Linked DNA regions of Homo sapiens. The protein of the gene in region 2 interacts with the protein of the main gene of each other region in a pairwise test. Each region holds a gene or a part of one and is shown on either strand. Other genes may lie near its edges.

Region 1 (7,025 bases), on a different chromosome or scaffold from region 2:
TTGTCAAAAGATAACCGTCAAAAGGATTCATGTCCGGGTTTCATCACTGTGTAGTCCCATACTGTTTATCACTCCATCACAATTTGAAGGCTGTCTGAAATATCCATGAACTCCACTGGTAATTCATGGAGTTCAACTCTCTTAACCACCCTCCTCCCTGACCCATGATTTTTACCCTAACAGCCATGAGAGTTTCCAAAAATGTTATGTTTTACTTTTCTAGTGTATGTCAAAAGACATTTTGTACTGTTTTAAAATTACTATTCTTGCTATTCAAAGAATAAAAAGTATTGTTTTTCAGATGATGGGTGGATCATGCTATAAAATGGTAACAAAGTTTTGGAAATAATAGCTTTAGATTATTCCAAAAAGAAAAAAAAGAAAGCCTTTCTTGAGTATAAATTGTTTTTATGAGTTCAAGGTTACATTGGCCTCATCTTAATAATTAGCGATGATTCAGATATTTTGGAATAGCTTTATATTTTTATTTATTTTTCTTTTTGAGACAGAGTGCCACTAATATTGCCCAGGCTGGTCTCTTAACTACTGGCCTCAAGCGGTCTTCCCACCTCAGCCTCCTGAGAAGCTGGGATTACAGGTGCACACTACCAAGCGCGGCTTAGAATAGCTTTTTAGAAAACCTAAACTTTTTATGTTCTGCAACTCTCCTCATATTGAAACGTTCATGTCCAACTGTTTTTCACCTTTTCTAATGAAAGTATTCTCCAAAGAACAAATTGGAATGCTTCCAATTATAGTTGTTCCCCCTTATCCTAGGGGGACACATTGCAAGACTCCCCAATGAATCCCTGAAACTGAAGTCTGTATACACTGCCGAAGCCTAAGTATACCATGTTTTTTAGATCTAATAACCAAGATGGGCTGATAGCGTATACAGCATGGATACACTGGACAAAGGGATGATTCACGTCCTAGGCAGGAGGGGGCAAACTTTCATTTTGCTACTCAGAACATGCTCTTGCCCCATTTAAAACTTAGGAATTGGCCAGGTGCAGTGGTTCATGCCTAATCCCAGCACTTTGGGAGACTGAGGTGGGCGGATTACTTGAGGCCAGGAGTTTGAGACCAGCCTGGCCAACATGGTGAAACCCCGTCTCTACCAAAAATTAAAAATTAGCCGGGCGTGGTGGCACGTGCCTATAATCCCAGCTACTTGAGAGGCTCAGGTAGGAGAATCACTTAAACCTGGGAGGCGGAGGTTGCAGTGAGTCAAGATCACACTACTGCACTTTAGCCTGGGTGGCAGAGCGAGACTCCATCTCAAAAACAAAACAAAAAACTTACGAATTATTTATTTCTGGAATTTTTCATTTAATATGTTCGGACCTTAGGTAATTAAAACCACAGATAAGGGGGGATCACCCTAACATGAACGCTGTTTATTCTAGGAATGGAGAGCTGGTCACTTTACTAAGACAGTGCCGTAGAACAGAACTTGTTACTAATTCCTATGCTTAGGGCTTTGTTTTTTAATCACAAGATTCTAGCACCTCCCCTATCTTCCAGACTTGGATTTTGAACTTTAAAATTTTGAAGTAGTGTTGTGAATCAGTTGAATATTATTAACTTGTAGAATAATTTATGTAATTCCATGACTAGGTAACTGTATAATTCTGAAAACCTGAACAGTCAAGGCCATTTGGTTCACTTTGATTCTCAACTCCAGAATTAATATGAACTTTGATACAGAATCATTTTCTATTTCAGAAAGGCTAACCCTGTTTAAAAAGCATGTTAGCCTTACAACTTACCGTATATTTTCTACACTGTTAGTCCTAAAAATTTTATTGTGTGATGTGATTGACGTTAAACCTTAACATGGGAATGGGTTGTATGTGGGTTTTTTTGTTTTTTTGTTTTTGAGACGGAGTTTGCACTGTCACCCAGGCTGGAGTGCAGTGGCTTGATCTCAGCTCACTGCAAGCTCCGCCTCCTGGGTTCGCGCCATTCTCTTGCCTCAGCCTCCTGAGTAGCTGGGACTACAGGTGCCCACCATTATGCCTGGCTAATTTTTTGTATTTTTAGTAGAGACGGGGTTTCACCTTGTTAGCCAGGATGGTCTCAATCTCCTGACTTCGTGATCCGCCCTCCTCGGCCTCCCAAAGTGCTGGGATTACAGGCGTGAGCCACCGCGCCCGGCCATGTTTTTTGATATTCTGAATAAAAAGGATATAGCAGTTGGGATAGGCTTGGGTTCTTGTCCTTTATGTTCTTGTCCTTTCCTCATGATAATCAAATCATAATTAGAAATAAGATGCTAAGAATACAAAGGTGGCTCTATGTTAATACTGTATTGATAGGTCAAAGGAGAAAAAGCATGAGATCAATTCATTAGATACTGAAAAGTCTTTTGAGGGAATTTAATGTCTTCTTGCTTTCTTTATTAACAGAATAGGAATAAATAATAGCATAGGCATAAATTAAAAATAATGTAATTTTTTAAAATCTCAAACTAAAAATGGGAATCATACTTAAACATTAGCATTCCCAGGAGAGTTGGAGCAAGACCTCTGTGCCCACTATCACTCAACATTTCATTATTTAAGTCCTAGCAAGTGCAAAACAGAAAAGATGCATAAATATTAGAGAAGGAAAGTTATTTTTTGCAAATGGCGTATTTTTTATCTGGAAATACCAGAGAATCAAGTGAGAAACTTTGAAGAATAAAATAATTCAGTAATGATGCTTCCTACCCTAGGTTAATTAATATAAAGAAGAGTTAAATTCCTATGGCATATTTCTGGTAACAAAAACATCACTAAACTTTTAAATAAAACCCAAAACACTTCTAGTATTAAACATTTAAATGAGCTGGGCGCAGTGGCTCACGCCTGTAATCCCAGCACTTTGGGAGGCCAAGGTGGGCGGATCACAAGGTCAAGAGATGGAGACCATCCTGGACAACATGGTGAAACCCCGTCTCTACTAAAAATACAAAAATTAGTGGGTGTAGTGGCCCGCACCTGTAGTCCCAGCTACTCAGGAGACTGAGGCACGAGAATCGCTTAAACTGAGGAGGCGGAGGTTACAGTGAACCAAGATCGCGCCACTGCACTCCAGTCTGGCGACAGAGCGAGACTCCATCTCAAAAAAAAAAAAAAATTTAAATGATTTCTACTAAAAATTTTAAAAATTAGCATGCCTATGGTCCCAGCTACTCAAAGGCTAAGGTGGGAGGATCCACTTGAGCCTGGGAGGTGGAGGTTGCAGTGAGCTGTGATCACACCACTGCACTCCAGCCTCGGTGACAGAGCAAGACCCTGTCTCAAAAAAAAATTGAATGAATGTGAGCTGTGTATACATTTAAGAAAGATTAATAAAAAGATAATTATTTGCCTCCCTCTTCCAGTTCAGGGTCTCAATGGCTGGAGCCTTTCTTGGCAATTCAGAGTCCAAGTTGGGAACCAGCCCTGAACTGGACGCCATCCCAGCACAGGGTGCTCTCACCTACACCCACGCTCACAGACTGGGCCGCGTAGACACATCCATTCATGTGCATCTTTGGGATATGGGAGGAAACTGGAGTACTTGGAGAAGACCCATAAAGATGGGAGAATGAGCCAGCTTCACACAGACAGTGACCTCAGCTGAGACTTTTTGTTTTTTCTTCTCATCAACATTATAACAAAACAAAGTTGAATGAAACGTCTTTCGAGGACCTGCTATAGACTAAAATTTTAAAACCCTGTCCCATATATGAACGAACAATTAGAAAATACAGTAGAAGAAAAGAGCCTATTTACAACCACAGGGAAAAGTTTAACAGAAATCCCTTAAAAGAAATGTATATAGGAGATCTGATCAAGAAAATAAACTACATGAAAAGGACAGGAACTAAACAGTCCTCTGTGTCTGCATTTGCGGGTAGAAAATATTCAGGGAGCCGGGTGCGGTGGCTCATGCCTGTAATCCCAGCACTTTGGGAGGCTGAGGCGGGCGGATCACGTGAGGCCAGGAGTTCAAGAGCAGCCTGGCCAACGTGGTGAAACCCTGTCTCTATTAAAAATACAAAAAATTAGCCGGGCATGGCGGCGCTTGCCTATAATCCCAGTTACTCAGGAGGCTGAGGCAGGAGAATCTCTTGAACCCAGGAGATGGAGGTTGCAGTGAGCTGACATCATGCTATTGCACTCTAGCCTGGGCAACAGAGTGAGACCCTGTCTCAAAAAAAAAAAAATACTTGGGGGAAACAATAAAAATAACCATAGAAAATATAAGTTAATATAATTATATAGTATTCACACTTTTAAGTATTATAAATAATATAGAGATGATTTATACGGGAAGATGTGCATAGGTTATATGCAAATACTACACCATTTTATATCAGGTACTTGAGCATCCTGGGATTTGAGTATCTATGGGGGTCCTAGAACCAATCTCCCTCAGGTACCGAGGGACTATACTATACCTTGTTCTTGAACGAGATGATTTGACATTTTAAATAGATGTTCCCCTAGATTAATCTGTAAATATAATACATTTCCAACCAGAATGCTAACACATTAATTTTTTTTTTTAACGATCTGGAAAAAATAAAAATACATAGGAAAATCTGAAAAAAAAAAAAAAAAAAAAGACAGTAGGGTGACTCACATTAATGTTTATTTAAAATATATTGTAAAGCTTCTGTAATTAAAATGGAATGGTACAGTTGCAGACCAGTAGAAAAGAATAAAGTCAGCTGGGCACAGTATCTCACGCCTGTAATCCCAAGACTTTGGGAGGCCGAGGCAGGCAGATCACTTGAGCTCCGGAGTTCAAGACCAGCCTGGGCAACATGGTGAAACTCCATCTCTACAAAAAAACTAGCTGGGCAGGATCGATTGAGCCCAGAAGGTCGAGTCTGCAGTGAGCTTATGATGGTGCCACTGCACTCTGGCCAGGGAACAAAGCAAGACTGTTTCAAAAAGAAAAGAATAAAGTCCACAATATCTGTGGGAAATGAAGGAGGCTCTATAGCCTGCTTGTTAAGAGCCTAAGTTCTGGAGTCATACTGGGTTTGAACTGCTTCTCTCCTTGTCATTAGCTCTGGGACCTTAAACAAGTTAACTTGCCAAGCTTCCTCTTCTCCAGCTGTAAACTGGGGGTGAAAATAAAATTTGTATCTGGGTTCTGGAGCTACCAAGTGAGGTGGTGCACAGTACACCACCATGTTCCATGTTTCATGGTAAATATTGGATAGATGCTAGTTATAAATGGCAGCAGTATAGTGTAGTAAAGGTAGCTTGTCCAATTAGCTGAGAAAAGATAGATAGTTGATAATTATTGTTTGGAAGAATTTAAAGGTTTTAAACAAGAAGTTAAACCATAAAAATACTATATGAAAGCAAGGCAGAGTAGGGAAGGCCTTTGTAAATATATCACAAAATCCAGAAGCCACGTATAGGAAAACATTGATAGATTTGATGACATGAAATTTAAAACTTTTGTATAACCAAAATATGCCCTTTAAGAGATCTACAGATAAAAGGAATTTTGGAGAAATTTTTTTTTTTTTTTTTTTTTTTTTTTTTTTTTTTGATATGGAGTAGCCCTCCGTTGCCCAGGCTGGAGTGCAGTGGCGCAATCTCGGCTCACTGCAAGCTCCGCCTCCCAGGTTCATGCCATTCTCCTGCCTCAGCCTCCCAAGTAGCTGGGACTACAGGCACCCGCCACCACACTGGGCTAATCGTTTTTTTGTATTTTTAGTAGAGACGGGGTTTCACCGTGTTAGCCAGGATGGTCTCGATCTCTTGACCTCGTGATCCGCCTGCCTCGGCCTCCCAAAGTGCTGGGATTATAGGCGTGAGCCACTGCACCCGGCCAAAAAATTTTAATCTCATATATGAAAGCTAGTCTGCTTAGTATCTTACAAAGCAGTGAGAGAAAAAGATGTGCTACTGAGTAATAAAATGATCAAAGGCAAAGAGTACCTACAGTCTTTTATTTATATAAAGTCAAAGAACAAGCAAAATTAAGTCAAAAATTGACTGCCATGAGGCAAGGTAGTTGATTGGAAAAGAGCATGAGTAAACTTTCTGGAGTGAGAAATGTTCTGTATCTTGGGGTGGTTATAGGGGCGTATACAATTATCAGAGCTTGTTAATCTGAACACTTAAGATCTCTGCATTTTGTTGAGTGCTAATTACACTTCAATTTAAAAATTGGTAAAAGTACTCCAGGACATCAATAAATTTAAATTTGGGAGTACACACAGTGGCTCATGGCTATAATCCCAATACTTTGGGAGGCTGAGGCAGGAGGGTCCTTTGATCCCAGGAGTTTGAGACCGGGTCTGGGCAACATAGTGAGACACCTGTCTCTGCAATAAATTTTTAAAATTTTAAGAAATTTGCTGGGCATGATGGCACACACCTGTAGTACCGGCTATTAGGGAGACTGAGGCAAGAAGATGACTTGAGCCCAGGAGGTCAAGATTGCAGTGAGCTGTGATCTCTCTCGCCACTGCACTCCAGCCTGGGTGACAGAATGAGACCCTGTCTCCAAAAAAAAGACGAGGAAATGTAAGTTAAAATAAGACGCTAATTTTTAATATCTATTGTCATTATAAACAATAAATTTAATAATATCCAGTGGTAAAAGGAGTTAGAGAAATGAGTGTAAATTGGCATGGACTTTTCAAATGGATTTTAGATAAATTTATCTGTTGACTCTAAATTCCATGTCCAGTGCTTTTTCCTGGTGTTAGATTCTCACACACAAACAAAGAAGTGTTGAGAGATGTTCACTGTATCATACTTAAAACAACTTATACTGCTACAAAAAGAAGGTAAATTAAATTGCAAATCATTTTTGTATGATGTGCAGCCATTAAAAGGGATGAAGTTAATAGAGCTGTATGAACTATTATGGAAAACTTTCCTATGTAAAGAAAAACACATTACATAAATAAGATTCCGCTTAAGTAATAATAATGTATGCATAGAAAGTTCCTTAAGGAATATTTAAGAAATGGTGAACACTGATTTTGAAATTTTTCTTTCTTCCTTCATTTCTTTTCT
Region 2 (7,025 bases):
ACAGCACCTGCCCCCGCCCTCGTCCTTCACTGAGGCAGCCCATATGCTTGGGGCCTGTTTTCCAACACGTCTGAGCAAGGCGCCCAACAAGAAGGACGCCCCTGGGGCCAGCCCTGCATCTGCTCTGCATTCTTGAGGGTGCTCGGGCTGCCAGGGCCTCCTGATGGGCGGTTCCAGGGCAGCTCGCCTCCCCTACCCCAGCCCTGCCTGAGCCCAGACCCACCAGCTAAAGAGACCAAGCAGGGTGGCCAGAGTCGCAGTCCTGGCTGGGTGGGTGTCCAGGTACCACGCAACTCTCCCTGAACGTGGCTTCCAGCTCCAGGGCTGCCTGAAATGAAGGCCTGGCCCCCAGCCGCAGGGGATGGTGACTCCGAGGATGAGGGACACTGGGCCCAGGAGCCCCAGCTGGACGCTCTGTCCCCTGGGCCCTAGTGACACATGCAGTCAGGCTACACCCTGCCCAGCAAAGGGTCTGCCGCCACCATGCCCCAGACCTAGAGCCACCACCAGCAGGCAGGGAAGCAGGGCTCTGTGTACAGAGGGAATGTGCAGACTTCTCCTAAGCCCCAGGCCACCGCACAGCTGCCCCGCTTCAGTCCCTCCCGCCTGAGTCCCTGTCTGGAGCTGCCGGGGCAGATGGAGCCCAGGCCAGTCACTGCAGCCAGGTCACCCTGAACCCTATCATCCAGGCAGGCCGGCTCCTGTCCAGAGCTCGGAAACAGGGACTGGGCCCTTCCAGGGATCTGCCCTCCACCAAGGCTGGGAGCGGGGACACCAGAGTCTGGGGGCCTCGGTAGAACCCTCGACCTTTCCGAGCCTCTGCTGCCTCATCTGTAAGGTGGGATCTTCACACTCACAGACTGGGCTGAACTGGAATAAACCAGTCGAGAGCCCTCATGCAGCAGGTGCTTACTAACGGCAGCTGCCATGATGCAGAAGATGACGGTGGTGGAGACGGCCAGGCCGCCCCTCTGCCTAGCAGCCCCCTCCCCACGGTCCACACGAGCAGGCCCCTACCTTGTTTTTGGCCGGGCTCCGAGTATGAGGCTGGCTGGGTTCCTCAGCCAGAGCCTGGAGCTTAGGGCTTAGCTGGATGGCATCTCCCTGGCCACCTGGCTTCCCCAGGCCCTTCATGGCCGCCCGGTAGGATTGGTTCCGCAGGTTCCGCCTCAGCATGCCCCCGGGGTCCTTGTCCACGTCCATGTCATCCAGGGAGAAGCTGGGGGCTGGGAGGAGCTTAGGGTCCCGCCGGGCGGCCTCCCTGCTAAGTACAGCCGCCCCGAAGCTCTGGTGGCGGGCTGGGGTCTTTGCCTTGCTGGCCACAGCCAGGCTCTTAGGGATCAGCTGTTGGGTGCCCAGCTTGAGGGCCGCCGGGCTCTCTGTGCTCAGGACGATGGGCCATGGCTCCTCGTGCCCCGGGGGCCGAGGCTGTGGGGGTGCCGGGACCTGGGGCTGGAAGGCGGCATCGTCTCTAACACGCGGGGAGCCACGGACCATTGGGAGCCCGGAGGCTGGGTTCCCCCCGGCATCGAGCCGGAGCTCCGAGTGGAAGCGGTGTCCCAGGAGCTTCTCCTCCAAGGAGCTGTCTGAGTGCCGCTGGGCCATGCTGGGCGGCTGTGGGGTCCTGGGGGAAGGGCAGAAGTGAGGTCTCGTGAGGCTGCTCTCCCCTGCCCCCGCGGGTGTCCACCCCCCTACCCCTTTGCATATGTCTGGCCGGGGCTCCAGTACAGCTCCCAGGACACAGCAGGCAAGGACAGCGACGCAGCCAGGAGCACAGTGGATCAGTGGCACAGCCAGTCCTGACCACTGGGAGCCAGCCATGTCTGAGGCCGGAGGCTGGACACAGGATGGGACTGGGCAGGCGCTGGTTCTCCGAGCTCCAAGGGACCAGGTGGGCACAGCCTATGGGGGTAGGCTGGACCTTGGAGGTTGGGAGGCCACACTGCTTCCTCTGATGGGCAGCACGCACTGAGGACACATTCCTGAGCCTGGAGGCAGGTGGGGCAGCTCAGGTGCATGGCCCTGGAGCCCTGAAGACCTGGCCTGGAATCCTGGCTCACACCTGGCAGCCATGCAGCCTCCTGGAACCACTTCCTCGTGGTGAACGCAAGGGTCATGGCGTTGCACTGGGGGGCTTCCTGAGGCCGGCATCAGCCACAGCGGCAGTGACCACAGCCTCTGCCTCATTGGGGTCTTCCAGGCACCTGAGCCAGGCTCTGCTGGGTTGGGGGGAGGGCAGGTGCATTTGCCCACATGCTCCCGGCCCGAGCCCAGGCCTGTGTGATTCCCCTCTCTTAGCCACACAGTGATATGACTGTCGCGGACTGTCCATGGAACCTTTCCACACACCAGGCAACACGCTTGCATTTTTCCACGTTTCTGAACTGGGCATAAAGCTGACAATTCTGGTCTCAGGAGCCCCACCAGTCACCAGCCCGAGAGTCCAGTATGACACCTGGCCACTGGGCAGGTGTGGTGGTGGCAGGGGTGGCAGCCCACAGTCCCACGTACACCCCCCAGCAGAGAGCGGGAGCTGCCCTGTAGACATCTCTGTAGCCCGATCCCCACACCCCGTGGGCTGCCCCGCCCCCGCCACACTCCTGCCCGCCCCTCCTGGCAGCGCGTGCCCCCGAGCCCATCTCTACCCCACTGTTCCCTTCATGGTCCGGGGCTGGCACCCTGCCCCTGACACTACTGCTTCCCATTTCTCACTTTCCTCCTTCCAGACCCGAGGCAGGGCTGCCCTTCTGCCCCTTGGGAATGGCACAGTCCTGAGACTGGCTTTGGGACATACGTGCCTGCCAGGTAGGAATGTGGAGAGCCAGCTCTCGACCTGCCTCTGCGTCTTCCCTGGCTGCCATGACTATAGGCACGCGTGGCCAGGCAGAGCCTCAATGGCCTGGACCCCGTGTGACCGAGATGTGCAGAGCCCCCAGCCGACACGGCCTCCAGGAGCCGGGCCCAGAGGTCTGTTTCCAGGCACTTTGCGGGGCTGTTGTGGCTACACATCACCTCCTGAGTGACGGCGCATTGCTCGGCCACAGCGGTCAGGCCCACAGTGAGCTTTCACGCCCCGGGCTGCTTGCAACCCCCCTGGGCACTTGCAACCCTCAGGCCACTGAGCAATGGATTCCGAGGGTCTGGTCTCTCAGGCCTCCCAGCTTTCCCCTCTGCTGCTCAGGGGCTCCCCACACGTGTCAGGGAGCAGCCCTGACCCAGGCATGTGGTCAATGAGCAAGTGACGCTGCCTCTCCGTGCCTCAGTTTCAAAATCTGCAAAATGGGCATGATAAGAGCAAGGCCCACCTCCTGAAGGTACGGTGGGAAGTGTAAAGCGTGCAAAGCGTGTAACAGGCCTGGCCGGTGTGAGGCCTGCGTCTGCGCCGCAGTGACCAAGGCCTTGCCGAATCACAGACAAGCTCATGCTCCCTATGCTCAGGGAGCTTCGTAGGTTCAAAAGGTAACGACATGGAGAAAACTCGCTGCTTTCATTCTTTCCCTTTTAAAAAATAAAGATAAAAACAATAACCACCACCACTCAGTATGCCTCCTATACACCCAGAACGTCACACACATGAAAATGACCGGAGTCTCTTGCGGGTGGAAACTGATTTTTCTGATGGGAAAACAAGGCTGAGTCACTCGCCCAAAGTCACTTCCTGCAGGGAGGTTGCCTACAGTCAGCCACACAACTGACCTGGATTAGCACCTTTGGAGTGTCCACAGGGCACCTGGGACACCCCTCTGTCCCTGCTCAGCCCCGGGAGCCACCAAACTCTCCCAGGACACAAATTCTCTGCTAAAACCATCCCAGGAAGGCACGTGCGGCTGAGCCTCCCAGGCCCCAGGGAGGGACGGCCCCCACGCTGGCCGGGAGGGTACATTCCTCAGGACATTCCAAATCACTGGTCAAGGACAGCGGCAGACACAACAGGCCTCCCCCGGGGCTGGTGTCCATGACACTGACCAGAGTGACGCTGGTCTGCACCATCCCAGGATCACCCGCTCACAGTAGGGTGTCTGCGTTTTACCCAGGCCCGGCCGAGAAATCCATTTCTTTTAGGCTTCTGTCTACACGCCAAGCAGAGCACACTCCAGTGGGTGGCCAGCGTAGGCGGTCTACGGCCCTGCGGTCCTTTTATTCTAAATGTGATGACTTTACCTGGGGGGCATTTGATGTGGGTTGACATGCCCACAACATCACTGTGCCCCATCTCCCACCAAACAAATGTCCCCAAGACCCCACAGCCCCCAAATACAGAGACCCCAGCCTGCACTGTCTCAACCTTCTGACTCTCATAGAGGCCTTCCTCCTTCCTAATGGGGCCAGACTGCCCAGGCCTGACTGTCCCTGACCACGTCCTCTGAGACGGTGTCCTGGCCCTGGCTGGCAGCAGCTGTCCCAGGAGAGATCAAAGTCTGCTCCACTGCCAGAAGGCGCCCAAACGGGAACCTGTCAGGCGAGCCAGAGCCTGAGCCATTGCTGGGTGTGACCTCCGCTCCCAGCGAGGCAGCCGCACCCACAGGCCTAACAGAGAGCCTGAGGGGTGTGGGCAGTCCAGAGCCCCCCAGGAGCCGGCTCTCGGGAGCTGTGGCCCTGGCAGGCACCCGTTGCCTTCTGTTTTTCAGTTTTTCTAAAGAACTATGAAGACACAGACACCGTTTCAAAAGTCAACGAGCACCAAAGACTTAGCATGAAAACCCAGCGTCCCCTCTTCCACACTGCCCTGATCCCCGGAGGCCACTGCTCTGGGCTCCTCAGCTTTTCCCAGAAAAAGGCACAGCCTGCTCTCAGTGACCCCCACCTATGGGCATTCCTACCCCCTCCCTGCCTGTTGGACGAGGACTCCATCACGGCTGGCCCCATCACACGATGCCTGTGCCGGCAGAAGGCGCTGAGCCCCAGGGCAGGGCCTTGTCCACGTCCTGTTAATGATTTTCTCTCATTTGACCAGCCTGGTTTCCCCAGTTAATTTTTCCCTGAGTGTTCTGGCGTCTCTGCCATGTGCTTCTTGAGAATATATTCTATATGTCTGGCAGGCCAGCTCAGTGTTTTTCCCAGACACCCCCCGTCCTCCCTCTCCAGAGGGCCCAGTGCTCTGGGCCTCACCCTGGGCGGATCCCAGGACCTCCTCTGCTGCTTCCGGGGCCCCTCTCACCTGCTCCCGGCCCTCATTGCCCTGAAGGACATCCCCAGGCACTGTCCCAGGAAGCCACATGGGAGCCATCTTTTGGACTGCCTGAAAATGTCTTGTTTCTTCCTCTCCCCTGACTGGTGAGGAGATGAGCATTCCCACTGTAGATGGTTTTCTCCCAGAGTCGGGCAGCGCCCTTCCCTTGTTGTCAGAGTTGCTGGGGAAGGGCCCCAATGTCCCGATCTCTTTCTCGGATCACAACCGGTGTGTGGTTCTCCCTGGCCCCACTGAGGGTCTGGCGCACCTGCTGGAGCCTGGGAGCTCTGGCTGTCTTGCTGATGTGCCTCGGTAGGGTCCGTGTTCGTTCACTGAGCCAGCCTGGGAGCTCTGATTGTCGTGCTGATGTGCCCCCGTAGGGTCCATGTTAGTCCACTGAGCCAGGCACTGGGTGGAACCCTGCCAGGCGGTCACTCTTGTCTAGGGCTGCGCAGATTTTCATATTATTTCTTCCACTCTGTTTTCTCTTTTTGGAATACCCACTAATGAGTATTAAGCTCTGGTGTTTTCTCCTAATTCCTTACCTTTCCTCCCCTACTTTGTTCTCTGTGTGAGGTTTTCTCTACTTGGACTTCTTATTGGCCCCTGGTCTTATCATTTTCATTATCCTCAAAGAGCCCTCTGCTCTTCATTCCTGGCATCCTGCTCTTGCTTTATGGGTGTAACATCTTCTATTGTCTTAGAGAGGAAGGATTACATTTTCTTTGGAGCGAGTTTCTTTCTTTCTGTCGCTGGCTGCTGGAGCTGCGCCCCTGCCACATACTTCCTCCTGTCTCCGCCTCTGCTGGCCTCTGTCTCTCAGGCACAGGGCTTTCCTCAAACATCTGCTGCTGGTGGTTGATTGTTTCTGCTTCTATTGAGGAGACAGGCCTTATGATGGCGGGAGGTCCAAGTGCACACACCCTGAGCACAGGTGTCTGACCGGGAGGGCCCAATGGGACCCCCAGCCCCATGCCAGGTCCATATCCTGAAGCCTGTCCTGCAGGCCGGCTGGTTTCTACAGTGGCCTCTTTCCATTTCCTCACTGAGATGCTGGTCGGCTCCTGGTGGAGCCAGTGAAGGGGAGGGGCTGAGAGGGCAGACTCCTTTCAGCAGCTGGCCATGCTGTCCCGGCTGCAGTGCCACAGAGAGAGGTCAGATTTCCTGCAGCAGCCACGTGGGCCAGTGGCAGATCTGCTCCCCAGCAAAGGCAGCCCTGACTTGCTGAGTGGGGGCTTAGCACAGGGCATGCACAGGGCAGAGGGAGCCGCAGGCTGGCTGGCTGGCTGTCCTGTCTCCCCATGTCTGTGAGCCCTTGCGGGGCAGGGACAGTTTCCTGTTCGTGTCCCCACAGTCGGGCTCAGATTCCACACTGAAGAGCAAATGCCTGCCTCGGCACGTGCTCTGCCCTGGTCTCCTAGTACCTTGATTCTGTGTCTTCCCAGAGAGGCCCTGGTGTTCCGTGCCAAGAACCAACTTGCAAGGGGACTTGGCTCAAAATGAGCAGAGGCTGGGCCAGGGCAGCCCCATAGAGGTTCTGGGCCCATCTGTGCCACTTTTTGGGCGACTTCCTGCTGCTTCTCCTCAGGGTGGGCTGGAAAGGACCTCCCATGGCTGAGCCCTGGGGCCCAGAACTCTCTCTTTTCTCTTTACCACTAAATACCCCACCTGGTATCCCCAACACATATAGTTATGGGGCATGAGGGACTTGCCAGGAGGAGGCGTGCAGCAGAGGCGAGCAGGCGGAATCCATGGTCTCTGGGCAGTCTCAGGGGCCCCCGCCTGGCCGGTCCAAGCAGGTGGAATCTGTGGTCGCTGGCCAGTCTCAGGGCCCCCTGCCCAGCCTGTCCGTTCC
Region 3 (6,955 bases), on a different chromosome or scaffold from region 2:
TTGTATCCTCTTTTATTTCGTTGAGCAGTGGTTTGTAGTTCTCCTTGAAGAGGTCCTTCACATCCCTTGTAAGTTGGATTCCTAGGTATTTTATTCTCTTTGAAGCAATTGTGAATGGGAGTTCACTCATGATTTGGCTCTCTGTTTGTCTGTTGTTGGTGTATAAGAATGCTTGTGATTTTTGTACATTGATTTTGTATCCTGAGACTTTGCTGAAGTTGCTTATCAGCCTAAGGAGATTTTGGGCTGAGACAATGGGGTTTTCTAGATATACAATCATGTCGTCTGCAAACAGGGACAATTTGACTTCCTCTTTTCCTAATTGAATACCCTTTATTTCCTTCTCCTGCCTAATTGCCCTGGCCAGAACTTCCAACACTATGTTGAATAGGAGTGGTGAGAGAGGGCATCCCCGTCTTGTGCCAGTTTTCAAAGGGAATGCTTCCAGTTTTTGCCCATTCAGTATGATATTGGCTGTGGGTTTGTCATAGATAGCTCTTATTATTTTGAAATACGTCCCATCAATACCTAATTTATTGAGAGTTTTTAGCATGAAGGGTTGTTGAATTTTGTCAAAGGCTTTTTCTGCATCTATTCAGATAATCATGTGGTTTTTGTCTTTGGCTCTGTTTATATGCTGGATTACATTTATTGATTTGCGTATATTGAACCAGTCTTGCATCCCAGGGATGAAGCCCACTTGATCATGGTGGATAAGCTTTTTGATGTGCTGCTGGATTCATTTTGCCAGTATTTTATTGAGGATTTTTGCATCAATGTTCATCAAGGATATTGGTCTAAAATTCTCTTTTTTTGTTGTGTCTCTTCCTGGCTTTGGTATCAGAATGATGCTGGCCTCATAAAATGAGTTAGGGAGGATTCCCTCTTTTTCTATTGATTGGAATAGTTTCAGAAGGAATGGTACCAGTTGTTCCTTGTACCTCTGGTAGAATTCAGCTGTGAATCCATCTGGTCCTGGACTCTTTTTGGTTGGTAAGCTATTGATTATTGCCACAATTTCAGCTCCTGTTATTGGTCTATTCAGAGATTCAACTTCTTCCTGGTTTAGTCTTGGGAGAGTGTATGTGTCGAGAAATTTATCCATTTCTTCTAGATTTTCTAGTTTATTTGCGTAGAGGTGTTTGTAGTATTCTCTGATGGTAGTTTGTATTTCTGTGGGCTCGGTGGTGATATCCCCTTTATCATTTTTTATTGCGTCTATTTGATTCTTCTCTCTTTTTTTCTTTATTAGTCTTGCTAGCGGTCTATCAATTTTGTTGATCCTTTCAAAAAACCAGCTCCTGGATTCATTAATTTTTTGAAGGGTTTTTTGTGTCTCTATTTCCTTCAGTTCTGCTCTTAGTTATTTCTTGCCTTCTGCTAGCTTTTGAATGTGTTTGCTCTTGCTTTTCTAGTTCTTTTAATTGTGAGGTTAGGGTGTCAATTTTGTATCTTTCCTGCTTTCTCTTGTGGGCATTTAGTGCTATAAATTTCTCTCTACACACTGCTTTGAATGCGTCCCAGAGATTCTGGTATGTTGTGTCTTTGCTCTCGTTGGTTTCAAAGAACATCTTTATTTCTGCCTTCATTTTGTTATGTACCCAGTAGTCATTCAGGAGCAGGTTGTTCAGTTTCCATGTATTTGAGCAGTTTTGAGTGAGATTCTTAATCCTGAGTTCTAGTTTGATTGCACTGTGGTCTGAGAGATAGTTTGTTATAATTTCTGTTCTTTTACATTTGCTGAGGAGAGCTTTACTTCCAACTATGTGGTCAATTTTGGAATAGGTGTGGTGTGGTGCTGAAAAAAATGTATATTCTGTTGATTTGGGGTGGAGAGTTCTGTAGATGTCTGTTAGGTCTGCTTGGTGCAGAGCTGAGTTCAATTCCTGGGTATCCTTGTTGACTTTCTGTCTCGTTGATCTGTCTAATGTTGACAGTGGGGTGTTAAAGTCTCCCATTATTAATGTGTGGGAGTCTAAGTCTCTTTGTAGGTCACTCAGGACTTGCTTTATGAATCTTGGTGCTCCTGTATTGGGTGCATATATATTTAGGATAGTTAGCTCTTCTTGTTGAACTGATCCCTTTACCATTATGTAATGGCCTTCTTTGTCTCTTTTGATCTTTGTTGGTTTAAAGTCTGTTTTATCCAAGACCAGGATTGCAACCCCTGCCTTTTTTTGTTTTCCATTGGCTTGGTAGGTCTTCCTCCATCCTTTTATTTTGAGCCTATGTGTGTCTCTGCAAGTGAGGTGGGTTTCCTGAATACAGCACACTGATGGGTCTTGACTCTTTATCCAATTTGCCAGTCTGTGTCTTTTAATTGGAGCATTTAGTCCATTTACATTTAAAGTTAATATTGTTATGTGTGAATTTGATCCTGTCATTATGATGTTAGCTGGTTATTTTTCTCATTAGTTGATGCAGTTTCTTCCTAGTCTCGATGGTCTTTACATTTTGGCATGATTTTGCAGCGGCTGGTACCGGTTGTTCCTTTCCATGTTTAGTGCTTCCTTTAGGAGCTCTTGTAAGGCAGGCCTGGTGGTGACAAAATCTCTCAGCATTTGCTTGTCTGTAAAAGATTTTATTTCTCCTTCACTTATGAAGCTTAGTTTGGCTGGATATGAAATTCTGGGTTGAAAATTCTTTTCTTTAAGAATGTTGAATATTGGCCCCCACTCTCTTCTGGCTTGTAGGGTTTCTGCCGAGAGATCCGCTGTTAGTCTGATGGGCTTCCCTTTGAGGGTAACCCGACCTTTCTCTCTGGCTGCCCTCAACATTTTTTCCTTCATTTCAACTTTGGTGAATCTGACAATTATGTGTCTTGGAGTTGCTCTTCTCGAGGAGTATCTTTGTGGCGTTCTCTGTATTTCCTGAATCTGAACGTTGGCCTGCCTTGCTAGATTGGGGAAGTTCTCCTGGATAATATCCTGCAGAGTGTTTTCCAACTTGGTTCCATTCTCCCCATCACTTTCAGGTACACCAGTCAGACGTAGATTTGGTCTTTTCACATAGTCCCATATTTCTTGGAGGCTTTGCTCATTTCTTTTTATTCTTTTTTCTCTAAACTTCCCTTCTCGCTTCATTTCATTCATTTCATCTTCCATCGCTGATACCCTTTCTTCCAGTTGATCGCATTGGCTCCTGAGGCTTCTTCATTCTTCACGTAGTTCTCGAGCCTTGGTTTTCAGCTCCATCAGCTCCTTTAAGCACTTCTCTGTATTGGTTATTCTAGTTATACATTCTTCTAAATTTTTTTCAAAGTTTTCAACTTCTTTGCCTTTGGTTTGAATGTCCTCCCGTAGCTCAGAGTAATTTGATCGTCTGAAGCCTTCTTCTCTCAGCTCGTCAAAGTCATTCCCCATCCAGCTTTGTTCTGTTGCTGGTGAGGAACTGCGTTCCTTTGGAGGAGGAGAGACACTCTGCTTTTTAGAGTTTCCAGTTTTTCTGTTCTGTTTTTTCCCCATCTTTGTGGTTTTATCTACTTTTGGTCTTTGATGATGGTGATGTACAGATGGGTTTTTGGTGTGGATGTCCTTTCTGTTTGTTAGTTTTCCTTCTAACAGAGAGGACCCTCAGCTGCAGGTCTGTTGGAATACCCTGCCCTGTGAGGTGTCAGTGTGCCCCTGGTGGGGGGTGCCTCCCAGTTAGGCTGCTTGGGGGTCAGGGGTCAGGGACCCACTTGAGGAGGCAGTCTGCCCGTTCTCAGATCTCCAGCTGCATGCTGGGAAAACCACTGCTCTCTTCAAAGCTGTCAGACAGGGACATTTAAGTCTGCAGAGGTTACTGATCTTTTTGTTTGTCTGTGCCCTGCCCCCAGAGGTGGAGCCTACAGAGGCAGGCAGGCCTCCTTGAGCTGTGCTGGGCTCCACCCAGTTGGAGCTTCCCAGCTGCTTTGTTTACCTAATCAAGCCTGGGCAATGGCGGGCGCCCCTCCCCCAGCCTCGCTGCCGCCTTGCAGTTAGAGCTCAGACTGCTGTGCTAGCAATCAGCGAGACTCCGTGGGCGTAGGACCCTCCGAGCCAGGTGCGAGATATAATCTCGTGGTGCGCCGTTTTTTAAGCCCGTCGGAAAAGCGCAGTAGTGACCCGATTTTCCAGGTGCCGTCCATCACCCCTTTCTTTGACTCAGAAAGGGAACTCCCTGACCCCTTGCGCTTCCCAAGTGAGGCAATGCCTCGCCCTGCTTCAGCTTGCGCACGGTGCACGCACCCACTGACCTGCGCCCACTGTCTGGCACTCCCTAGTGAGATGAACCCGGTACCTCAGATGGAAATGCAGAAATCACCCGTCTTCTGCGTCGCTCACGCTGGGAGCTGTAGACCGGAGCTGTTCCTATTCGGCCATCTTGGCTCCTCCCCTGGACAGCGTTCTAAATAGCCTCCTGCCAAAAATACTATTCCCCTTTTAAAAACAAGTTTTTAAGACCCACCTAATAGAAGGAAATGTTGTAACTCGTAATCTGTGCTGACCCATCCCTCATTTTATTTACTCAACATTTATACTGTAACACTAGACTAGAGATTGTCTAATATAGATTCTAAGCTCTCAGAGAGCAGGTTTTCCTGAGTTCTGGAGCCCTCCTAAATTGCTAGCCTCTCACTTTGTAACATTCTAATTTAATTGGTACCAAGGTTCTGCAAATATTTAGTGAATGTTGATTGATGGTCTGTACTCATCTGTTCTAACTTATCTTTTTTTTTCCATTCAGTCTTCCTGATCTATATTTTCTCTTTACTTAACAGACAGTGTGGAGCATTCATTATTAAGACAATTGGGCAGCTCTATTCCAGCTCAACTGATTTCTTGTCCAATGATCCTTGCGTGGCCGAGATCCAGCTTCAACGAACCAGCTAGAAGCTGCCCGTTGTGAAACTTAGTGTTAGTTAATACCTCACCATACTCAGTTATTCCACTATAAGCTGTCTAAATTTGATGAAATTTGCTTTTTCAGCTGTTCTACAAAATTATTTAGGTAGATGTGGCATGTTGGTTTTTTATGTGCTAACCTAACTGTAATGACCTTTTCTACAACATGTTTTATCCATTCCATAAATAATAACCACATTGGGAATAGTGAGGTGTCTTTTATTTTCTCTGCTTTGTGTTATTTTTTCTTATCAAACAATTAGATGTTATGTTTCATATTATTTGATATTTATTTTCATATTTAGGATAAGAATCATTTTTAATTATAATACTTTTAATACTTTCATATATTTTACAACAGTATACTATTTAATATTAATGACAATTCTATTTTTGCTTTGCTGTTTTGTCATTTAATATGCTTTTGTCTAATTTTTAATTCATTTATTACTGTTACTCCTTATTTAATTTTGCGTCTGCCATGGTTTTCAGAATCTGAATAGTATTTATACTTCTTTTTTATAACATTTTCCAAATATTAGAAATACCATCAACATGATCAGTATTCTTGCCTTTTCATGTAATTTGACTATATTAAATTTTTTCTCCAGTGTTTGAGACAATATTGAAATCTTCCTATAACATAATTTATTTGGTATCAAATTTTATAAAATATGGATCCACCTTTGGAATTTTGATAAAAGGGTTCATCTCTGACATGATCCCATAACACTGACTGAAATTCCACCAAATTACTGTTCTTTGAATGCTTTAATCCTTAAACCTTTTCTTCTGATATGCAACCAATATATTCAATTATATATGTGATTAATTTTTAAAAGGACAATTGTTTTCATAAAATGCAAAACTATTTTTTACACCAAAGGAAAATTTTAGATTCTGATTCTAAATCCGATTTTTACTATAAAATTGGAAAATAGATGGGAGGGGTGTCATTCATTGTTCAAAAGGTACAGAACAAATCATAGGGGTTTTTAATCTCTAAAATTTCTACAGTAGTACAGGAAATATTCCTCTTTACATTCATTTGCAGTTCTTTCACTGACCTCCTAATTTTAGGTGGAGGGGGCAGGGGGAGCCATAAAAGTTGGTATTACCCTAATAAATCTATCTCTTTCCTCCCCTGTTTCAACCCCACATGTATTCCATGCTCAGCAGCAGCAGCAGAAATAGTAGGATATAGATCACAAAGGTTTTTCTGGTGAGTCAAATAGGGTGTTTTCTTTTGAAACTGTAATGAATATGTTTGCCAGTCAAATGGCTTCATGAGAACAGTAGAACCTTATGAATGTATACTAGCATACAAGGATCTCAAATACATTAATTATTCTCAGTTTTAGGAATGTAAATAGATTAAGTCCCACAATGAAATTTCAGAAGTTTTTGTTCTGTAAGTAAAAAATTACTAACCACTGATGTTCAAGATTTTCTTTTAATAGCACTATCCTTGAGAACCAAAAAGTTTATGTTTTGATTTTCAAATGTTAAACAAGATGCTAAACAAATCCTGGACTGTTAATAAAAATTAATTATGTATTATTGGATAAGGAATTTTGATGATAATTGATACCCAAGTGTGTTTCTTCCACAACTATATAGATTATATGCATACACATATATACATGTTTATATGCATATATACACACACATATATAATTTATACATATGCACTTTCTTAGAATTTAGCTTTATTTTGAGAAGCTACTAAAAATTTTGGGAGTTTGACAATCTGAATAAATGGAGGATATCATACAGCCTTCTTCATGGCCTAGCTTAATAGCCCAAACATGTTACTTTTTTTTTTTTTTTTTTTTTTTTTAAGAGACTGTCTTGCTCTGGGGCCCAGGTTGGAATGCAGTTATGCGATCATGGCTCACTGTGACCTCAAACTCCTGGGCTTAAGCCATCCTTTCACCTCAGCCTCCCTAGTAGCTAGGATTACAGGCATGCACCACCACACCCAGCTAATTTTTTATTTTTTGTAGAGACAGGGTCTTACTAGGTTCCCCAAGCTGGTCTCAAACTCCTGGGCTCAAGTGATCTTCCTACTTTGGCCATCCAAAGTGCTG

The links. The genes of interacting proteins can lie anywhere in the genome.
Region 1: the proteins of ARHGEF16 (region 2) and MAPK1IP1L interact in binary tests that used the Homo sapiens proteins (3 or more experiments, as listed by UniProt).
Region 3: the proteins of ARHGEF16 (region 2) and BOLL interact in binary tests that used the Homo sapiens proteins (3 or more experiments, as listed by UniProt).

What each region holds. Positions count from the first base shown.
Region 1 is NC_000014.9:55,054,647-55,061,671, forward strand, and holds part of MAPK1IP1L (MAPK-interacting and spindle-stabilizing protein-like), read left to right. Parts: intron 1-6,508; exon of another isoform or gene 6,509-6,525; coding exon of another isoform or gene 6,526-6,527; intron 6,528-7,025.
Region 2 is NC_000001.11:3,457,665-3,464,689, reverse strand, and holds part of ARHGEF16 (rho guanine nucleotide exchange factor 16), read right to left. Parts: exon of another isoform or gene 5,191-7,025; coding exon of another isoform or gene 5,159-5,190; intron 1,625-5,158; coding exon of another isoform or gene 1,606-1,624; coding exon 1,018-1,605; intron 1-1,017. UniProt on the Homo sapiens protein: Guanyl-nucleotide exchange factor of the RHOG GTPase stimulating the exchange of RHOG-associated GDP for GTP. May play a role in chemotactic cell migration by mediating the activation of RAC1 by EPHA2.
Region 3 is NC_000002.12:197,726,365-197,733,319, reverse strand, and holds the end of BOLL (protein boule-like), read left to right. Parts: intron 1-4,741; coding exon 4,742-4,765; coding exon of another isoform or gene 4,766-4,853; 3' UTR 4,854-6,430; downstream 6,431-6,955. UniProt on the Homo sapiens protein: Probable RNA-binding protein, which may be required during spermatogenesis. May act by binding to the 3'-UTR of mRNAs and regulating their translation.